2 linked regions of the Homo sapiens genome follow. The protein of the gene in region 1 purifies or fractionates together with the protein of each later gene. This does not show direct contact. Each region holds a gene or a part of one and is shown on either strand. Other genes may lie near its edges. The genes, in order: AGPAT2 and ATP1A3.

The links.
Region 2: the proteins of AGPAT2 (region 1) and ATP1A3 purify together in Homo sapiens (co-immunoprecipitation; 2 studies listed by BioGRID and IntAct, with this or other methods). This does not show direct contact.

What each region holds. Positions count from the first base shown.
Region 1 is NC_000009.12:136,680,798-136,684,697, reverse strand, and holds part of AGPAT2 (1-acyl-sn-glycerol-3-phosphate acyltransferase beta), read left to right. Parts: intron 1-3,900. UniProt on the Homo sapiens protein: Converts 1-acyl-sn-glycerol-3-phosphate (lysophosphatidic acid or LPA) into 1,2-diacyl-sn-glycerol-3-phosphate (phosphatidic acid or PA) by incorporating an acyl moiety at the sn-2 position of the glycerol backbone.
Region 2 is NC_000019.10:41,966,331-41,970,230, reverse strand, and holds the end of ATP1A3 (sodium/potassium-transporting ATPase subunit alpha-3), read left to right. Parts: coding exon 1-46; intron 47-650; coding exon 651-796; intron 797-1,315; coding exon 1,316-1,446; intron 1,447-2,467; coding exon 2,468-2,569; intron 2,570-2,890; coding exon 2,891-2,982; intron 2,983-3,265; coding exon 3,266-3,294; 3' UTR 3,295-3,649; downstream 3,650-3,900. UniProt on the Homo sapiens protein: This is the catalytic component of the active enzyme, which catalyzes the hydrolysis of ATP coupled with the exchange of sodium and potassium ions across the plasma membrane.

The sequences.
Region 1 (3,900 bases):
ACCTGCTTTTCCCTTTCCCCTTGTTCCCAGCCCAGCGCTTGGGGCTGGTGAGGCAGCCCTGCGGCAGGCCTGAGCTCTGGGAGGGGCGCTCCATCTTGCCCCTGAGCAATGGCTGCCCTGGCTGAGGCCCAGCCCCTCCCCACGGGGTTCCAGGCGGCACCCAAGAGACCCCCACCGTCTACACCGTAGTTCTGAGCGTGTGAGGGACAGTGATGGGACTAGAACCTCTGAGGCAGCCTTCGTTCCCACCGGGCTTGGGGCTGAGACCACGGACCCCTTCCAGGCAGGGGGTGTCCCCTGAGCCCTTCCCTGTGTGCGCAGTTACGGTGGAGCTGCAGGGGACGTTTCCTCACCAGGGGCCGATGCCCTGGTACATCCATTCGACAGAGGAAAGCAAAGCCCAGAGCGGCTCCGTGTCCTACAGCTGGGTTCAGCTACAGGATCAGAAAACCCTCAAGACAGCAGCTTAATCCACAGAGAAGTTTACTTTTTCATACAGCAAAGGAGACCAGATGGGCAGCCTAGGGAAACAGCAGTTAGTTTCCGGCTCCTTTGACCTCTATTCCCACCATTTTCAGGGTCCCAGACAGAAAAGGGGTGCTCTTCCTCTTAAGGATGCTCCCCGAATTGAACCCCACGCTCTGCTGGTATCTGGAGGCCGGGACCTAGTGGTTGTGGCAGCTCCTGGCTGCAGGGCAGGCTCCTGTCCCCATGGAGCACGTGCCCACACCACACGCCCAGTGTGGGGAGAACGCACAGGGGACTTGGGATGTCGGGCAAGGTTTGACCCAGATTTGCCGGCCAGTGCATGGTCCCGGGTCCTCTGACAGATGTCCGGTGATGACAGATGCCATCGGGGGCCCTGTGTCACCACAGCACTGGGGTCTTAGTCCCAAGGGAGACCGTGACCTTGGTCCTCCAGAGCGCTCCAGGTGTCTCTGTGCAGGCCCAGAAATTGGAGCTGTCCTGACTGAGGGATGGGAGGGCTTCTCTGGCCCCACCTCCTTCCCGCCCGCCACACCTGCACTCCTACACATCCGCTTTGAGGAGTCACGGGGACCCCCCACATCCGGGTGTTTGTGTGGGCTGGACCCCGCACCCCTATGGACCCATCCCGCCTTGTGCTGCAGCTTGGATGACACTTGTCGGAAAACACCAGATTCCTCACTGGGGTCCCTGTCCCCGGTGGCCCCAGCGAGCCCCAGCAGAGGGGGAGGGGGCTGCCCTGAATGAGCTCACGCAGCTGAAGATGGGCAAGTCCTGGCTCAGAGAGCTGCTGGGTCTCCTGGGAGTGTCCCAGCCCAGGACCAAGGCAAGGGTCAGCGAGTGGCCTTCCACGAGGACAGCCTGGCCAGTGGCCTGGGCCCTGACCTAGAACCGCCTCCCAGCTGCCTGAGCCAGGTGCTGGTGGGATTGGGGGCTTAGGCACATTGAGGGGCCTTTTGCTTCGATTTACTTTGGACTTTTTTTTTTATTTTTTGAGACAAGGTCTCGCTCTGTTGCCCAGGTTGGTCTTAAACCCCTGAGCTCAAGTGATCCGTCTGCCTCAGCCTCCCAAAGTGCTGGGGTCACAGGCATGAGCCACCGTGCCCGGCCCCACCCATTTTGGATTCTTCCCCCCCTCCCCCCCACCCCCTAGTCATCCCCATCACAGCCACTGTTGGTGGAGGTCCTGCCCTGGCCCGATGGTGCCCCGGGTGTCTCCGCCTCATAGAATGTAAGCCTGCACACCCTTCCACAAGAGCCTGGGAGGTCAAATGCTTTGCCCGAGGCCATAGCTGGGAAGAAGGGAAATGGGATCCAAATCCCCGTCAGGCCCAGAGCCTGAGTGTGGGAGCAGCCCAGGTGCCTGGGGGCTGAGCTCAGGCGGTCTGAGGAGGCTGGGTTCCTGCAGACCCCAGAGGGGTCTCTTACGGGGCTTCGCTCGAGGCCAGTGGACTCCAGTCTGAGGGCTCCTGAAAAAGACTGAGGCAGCACCTGGGCTTTCCCTCAGCAGGAGCCCACTGCTCCGATGCCACCAGAAGGGCCCAGTCTGGGCTCAGCCTCACTTAGTTTTGGGTGCTGGGCTGCTCCCTGGGCCTCCTGCCTTGCTGGGCAAAGCTGGCACAAGTCACCCGCCTGGCAGTGGCCAGCAGGGCTCCCTGAGCTCCAGGCTTCCGGCAACCTTGGCTTTGCCCCTGCTCCCCGGGGAGGCAAGGAGTCCAGGACCTGGATTTGGGGTCCGTGTGACTGTGTCCTGGTCTGGCACAGCGACACCTGCCCCAGGCTTTGAGGAAAGGACAGGGCAGCCCCTCGTCCGCCTGTGGTTGGTGGGAGGGGAGTTTGAGTGAGGCAGGGTGTTTGGCACAGGACAGGGACTGGGCTGGGCAAGCTGGTGGGGGAAGCCTGGGGACAGTGGCTGCTCTGAGCTTCCTGCTGGGGGAGGCCGGAGCAAGCTCCCAGCCCTGCTGAGGGGTTGAGGGGACTGCGGAGCCCGGGGGAGGGAGGGAGCCTCAGGATGAGCTCCTAGAGTCCTACTGGGGGCCCGCGCCGCCCCAGCACGACTCTGCCAGCTCCGAAGCAGGGTTCCGAGGGGGGCTCAGGCCTGTTCTGGCTTCCCTGCTGTGTGGCCTTGGGGAAGTCACTTAACTTTGCTGAACCTTGAACCTCGCATTCCTCATCTGAAGAGGGGGGTTATGATCGTACCTACCCTGGGGGGTTACTGTCAGAACAAAAGGAGGTGACTCATGTAGAGCCCTTGTCTCGAGGCTTTGCACACAGGAGGTGCAGGGGGCCTCTGTGCTTAGAAGGCGATTTTTCTCTGCTTGGGTTCCCGGGGGTGTCCTCGGCCGCAGGAGCCTCTGCAGGGCTTAGTTCAGTCCCTTCCTCTCTGAGGAAACACTTTTTTTGTGTGTGTGAGATGAAGTCTTGCTCTGTCACCCAGGCTGGAGTACAATGGCACCATCTCGGCTCAACGCAACCTCCTCCTCCCTGGTTCGGGTGATTCTCCCGCCTCAGCCTCCCGAGTAGCTGGGATTACAGGCAGCTGCCACCACGTCTGGCTGATTTTTGTATTGTTAATAGAGACGGGATTTCACCATGGTGGCCAGGCTGGTCTTGAACTCCTGACCTCAGGTGATCTGCCCGCCTTGGCCTCCCAAAGTCCTGGGATTACAGGCGTGAGCCACCCGCCCATCCAGGAACCGCTTGTAAAGTGAGTCTAGACTTTCCCACCAGCTTTCAGAAAGCTCTGAACTATGTACGGGACACCGCGGGGGAAGTGCGGTGGCCTCACGTGGCTGGTGCAGATGGCCCTTTGTCCCCTTGAGGACATCAACTTCAACTTTCTTCCACCCCCAGGGTATACCTTTCTCCCCCAGCCACACTGTGGGCTGCAGAGTTCTAGAGAGCCACAGCCTCCCGCTGGCCTGGGGCAGCCTCCGTCCGTCCATCTGTCTGGCCTGAGGACCAGGGGCCGGTGGTGGGCGGCGGGACACAGCGCCTGCTCAGCACCGCCTGCTGGGCGGGGGTTTGTACCCCGTGTCTTTCACAGCTGAGAGAAGTATCAGTGCACGATCCAACCCCTAAGCAGCTTAGATTAAAAAAAAAAAAAAAAGGAAAAGTTTTGGAGCTAGAGGGTGGTGCTGGCCACACGGCAGTGAATGCGCCGAGTGCCACGGAACCGTGTGCTGAGAAATGGGTACAATTATATTGTTTAGGTGGTGCGTGTTATACCACAATCAAAACAGAGGAGGGCTCGGCGCGCTGGCTCCTTCCTGTCATCCCAGCACTTTGGGAGGCCGAGGCGGGCGGATCATGAGGTCAGGAGTTTGAGACCAGCCTGGCCGACATGGTGAAACCCCGTCTCTACTAAAAATACAAAAATTAGCCGGGTGTGGTGGCGCACACCAGTAGTCCCAA
Region 2 (3,900 bases), on another chromosome or scaffold:
AAATTGGTCAATGAGAGACTCATCAGCATGGCCTACGGGCAGATTGGTGAGGCACCGGGGACTCCATCTCCTTACCACCCAGTGCCGGGCCTAGAGCAGTGCCTGGCCCACCGTGGGTGCTTGGGACCCTGGCATTGACTCAGGGGAGCAGACGTGGGCAGGACCAACCAGTGAGCTATCTGTGGGGGGGGTCTGCACCCCATCCTTCTCCACCTCCTCCTCTCTGCTGTTGATGTGTGCGGATCCCCAGAGGAGTGGAGCAGCCACCCTTGGGGGCTGTCCCAGCAAGCAGAGACTTCATGGCAGTGGTTCCAGGCCCAGGGAGGTCATTCCTGCGTAGGGAGCTCAAGCTGGGGATCCCCCAAGAATTCATGATGTTTAGGTGGCCTAGGTCAGGTGAGAGAGGGGCTCCAGGTTATCCCTCTGGGAGAGCCCTCTCTCCAAAGCCCCTGTCCCAGGTGGCCCACCCATCTCAGGGCCTCACCACCAAGTGAGACCTCAGGTCACCCTCTGGGAACCAATGTCCAGATAACAGGGCCAGGAGGGCATACTCCCCTCTCCAAGGAGGCCTCCGGGCCCTCTGAGGTGCCCTGGGTTGGCTGCTGGCCCCAATCTGAGCCTCTCCTCGGCTTCCTCTCTCCTCCTTCCAGGAATGATCCAGGCTCTCGGTGGCTTCTTCTCTTACTTTGTGATCCTGGCAGAAAATGGCTTCTTGCCCGGCAACCTGGTGGGCATCCGGCTGAACTGGGATGACCGCACCGTCAATGACCTGGAAGACAGTTACGGGCAGCAGTGGGTGAGTAGGGCAGGGTGCTGTGTCTCTGCCCACCGTAAGATCCCCGGGGTGAGCTGTTCCAGCCATGCATGGCCACTTCCTACGATGGCCCCCTCAGTCTCCCATGGCAGCATCAAGGCCTTTGCTGGGCACCTGGGGCTTCCTGGATGCCCTTGGCCCAGCCCATCTGGAGCCTTGTGTCCCACTGCTGGAGCTCTCTGCCCTGCCAGGCCTTCTTCCCCACCTCTGTCTGTCCCTTCAAAGCCCAGTTGCTGTCTGTCCTCCTTGGGAGGCCCACAGGGTCCTTATCCTCCTCCCTGGCCCCTGGTGGATGGTGAGATCACCATTAACCTTTCTTCTTCCTTGTACGTCTCCTGACTCCTCCCTCGGGACTATGAGCCCGCAGAAGGAAGACACACCTGAGGCCCTGAGGACCCCATGCAGGATGGGGCGGGGCAAAGAGCACCGGAACGTCGGGGTGGCGGCTAGGGCTGCAGTGCCACTAACTGACGTCCCGTGCCCTGGTCACCGCTCCTGCAGACATACGAGCAGAGGAAGGTGGTGGAGTTCACCTGCCACACGGCCTTCTTTGTGAGCATCGTTGTCGTCCAGTGGGCCGATCTGATCATCTGCAAGACCCGGAGGAACTCGGTCTTCCAGCAGGGCATGAAGTGAGGGCCGGGGGCACATGGTGACTGGACAGCCATCTGTCCTGTCCGAGTGTCTGTCTGTCTGTGTACTTCCTCTTGTGTCCTTGCTTTGGTTTTTTGTTGTTTTGTTGAGGCAGGGTCTCACTCTGTCACCCAGACTGGAGTTCAGTGGTGTAATCATAGCTCACTGCAGCCTCGACCTCCTGGGCTCAAGTGACCCACCCACCTCAGCCTCCTGAGTAGCTGAGACTACAGGTGTGCACCATCATATATGGCTAATTTTTATTTATTTATTTAGAGACAGAGTCTTGCTCTGTTGCCCAGGCTGGAGTGCAGTGGCACAATCTTGGCTCACTGCAACCTCCGCCTCCCGGGTTCAAGCGATTCTCATGCCTCAGCCTCCCAAGTAGCTGGGATTACAGGTACGCACCACCAGGCTCGGCTAATTTTTCGTATTTTTAGTAGAGTTTCACCATGTTGCCCAGGCTGGTCTCAAACTCCTGAGCTCAGGCAATCTTCCTGCCTCAGCCTCCCAGAGTGCTAGGATTACAGGTGTGAGCCACCATGCCCAGCCCATTTTGGGTTTTGCCACTGCACTGATTTTCTCTCAAGGGGTCCTGTGTGTCCTAGATTCTCTCTCAGCCTCTGTGTGTGTGGTGGAGGTGCCCCTGGCCTTTTCTTTTTATACCAGTGCCTCTCTGTGTCTGTCCCTGTCTCTGTGTCTGTTTCTGTCCCTGTCTCTGTGTCTGTCCCTGTGTCTGTCTCTCTGTCTGTCCCTGTCTGTCTCTGTGTCTGTCCCTGTCTCTGTGTCTGTCCCTGTCTTTTGTCTCTTTCTGTGTCACCATCGCTCTGCCTCTATCTTTGTCTCTCTCTGTCGGGGCATGTCTCCCCATCTCTGTCTCTCCCTATGTCTCTGCCTCTCTGTCTCTGTGTCTGTGCTGCTGTCTCTGGGTGTCTGCACTGTGCCTCCCCCTGTCTCTGCGGGGTGGCAGGTGCAGGGTGGGTGCTCTCTGGGCCCAGCCCTGCCCTTCTGTGCCTCCAGGAACAAGATCCTGATCTTCGGGCTGTTTGAGGAGACGGCCCTGGCTGCCTTCCTGTCCTACTGCCCCGGCATGGACGTGGCCCTGCGCATGTACCCTCTCAAGTGAGTGCCCCGCTGCCCCCAGCCCTGCCCACACCAGCGCCTGCCATGGAGCCTTCCCTTAGACTCAGCCTGAACCTCAGGCCCCACCTCCCCTGGTGTCCCCACTGCAGTCCCCATTCTGATGCCCCCGAGCCTCCCCCATAGGCTGCTCCCACCACGGATTACTCCGAAGACCCCAGGCCCCAGCCCCGCCCAGGGCACCCTCCACCTGTGAGCACGAAGGATCCTGGGAGACTGCCCCTCTGCGTCCCCTCCAGTCCCCTGAAACTCTGCCTCTCGTTAGGGCCCCGCACTCAAGCCCTCCTGCTCTCCCCTCTGCAGGCCCAGCTGGTGGTTCTGTGCCTTCCCCTACAGTTTCCTCATCTTCGTCTACGACGAAATCCGCAAACTCATCCTGCGCAGGAACCCAGGGGGTGAGGGAGCTCGGCAAGGCAGCCGAGGGGGGCGGGGGGCAGCAGGGTCTCAGGCAGCTGGTCCCAGGCTCCCCTCGCCCTGCTGGATGGCTCTGCCACCTGGTTCCCACTCTTCTCTCTCTTCCCATCTCTCCGGGCACCCACTCTGTCTTCTCACGGGTCTCTGTCTGTGTGGTTTCCTTGTCTCTCTCCCTCTCTGTCCCTCTCTCTGCTGGGCGGCTCGCCTTGCCTGTCTCTCTCCATCTCTTACTCTGTCTCTTTCTTTCCTTCTTTGTCTCTCCAGGTTGGGTGGAGAAGGAAACCTACTACTGACCTCAGCCCCACCACATCGCCCATCTCTTCCCCGTCCCCCAGGCCCAGGACCGCCCCTGTCAGTCCCCCCAATTTTGTATTCTGGGGGGAGGAGCCCTCTCTTCCTGTGGCCCCACCTTGGCCCCCACCCCCTCCACTATCTCCTGCCGCCCCCACTCTGGCTGGCTTCTCTCCCCTGCCCCAAACCTCTCTCCTCTCTCTTTTCTGTGTCAGTTTCTCTCCCTCTCCTCACCCCTCTATCCATTCCTCCCGCCCCAGCCACCTCCCTGGGCTCTTTTTTACTCCCCTTCAGCCCCCCGGCTGATGCCATCTCTGGTTCTGGACAATTATCAAATATATCAGTGGGGAGAGAGAAGCGGTGTGTGTGTTGTGCCTGCTTTCCAGACGGGGACTGCGGCTGGGACAGCATCCCCTCTGTTGGGGCGCGCTGCCAGGCGACTCTCGAAACTGCAGGAACTTAGCCTGGCACTGGCTTGGAAGTCACGGAATCTCAGAGCCATCTAATCACGGAGTTTTCAACTCCACGAAAGTCAGAGCAGCTTGAATTCACCAGGCGATGGCATTGTGGAATCAGAACAGGGGAGAGGGAGGGAAGCAGACGTGGGA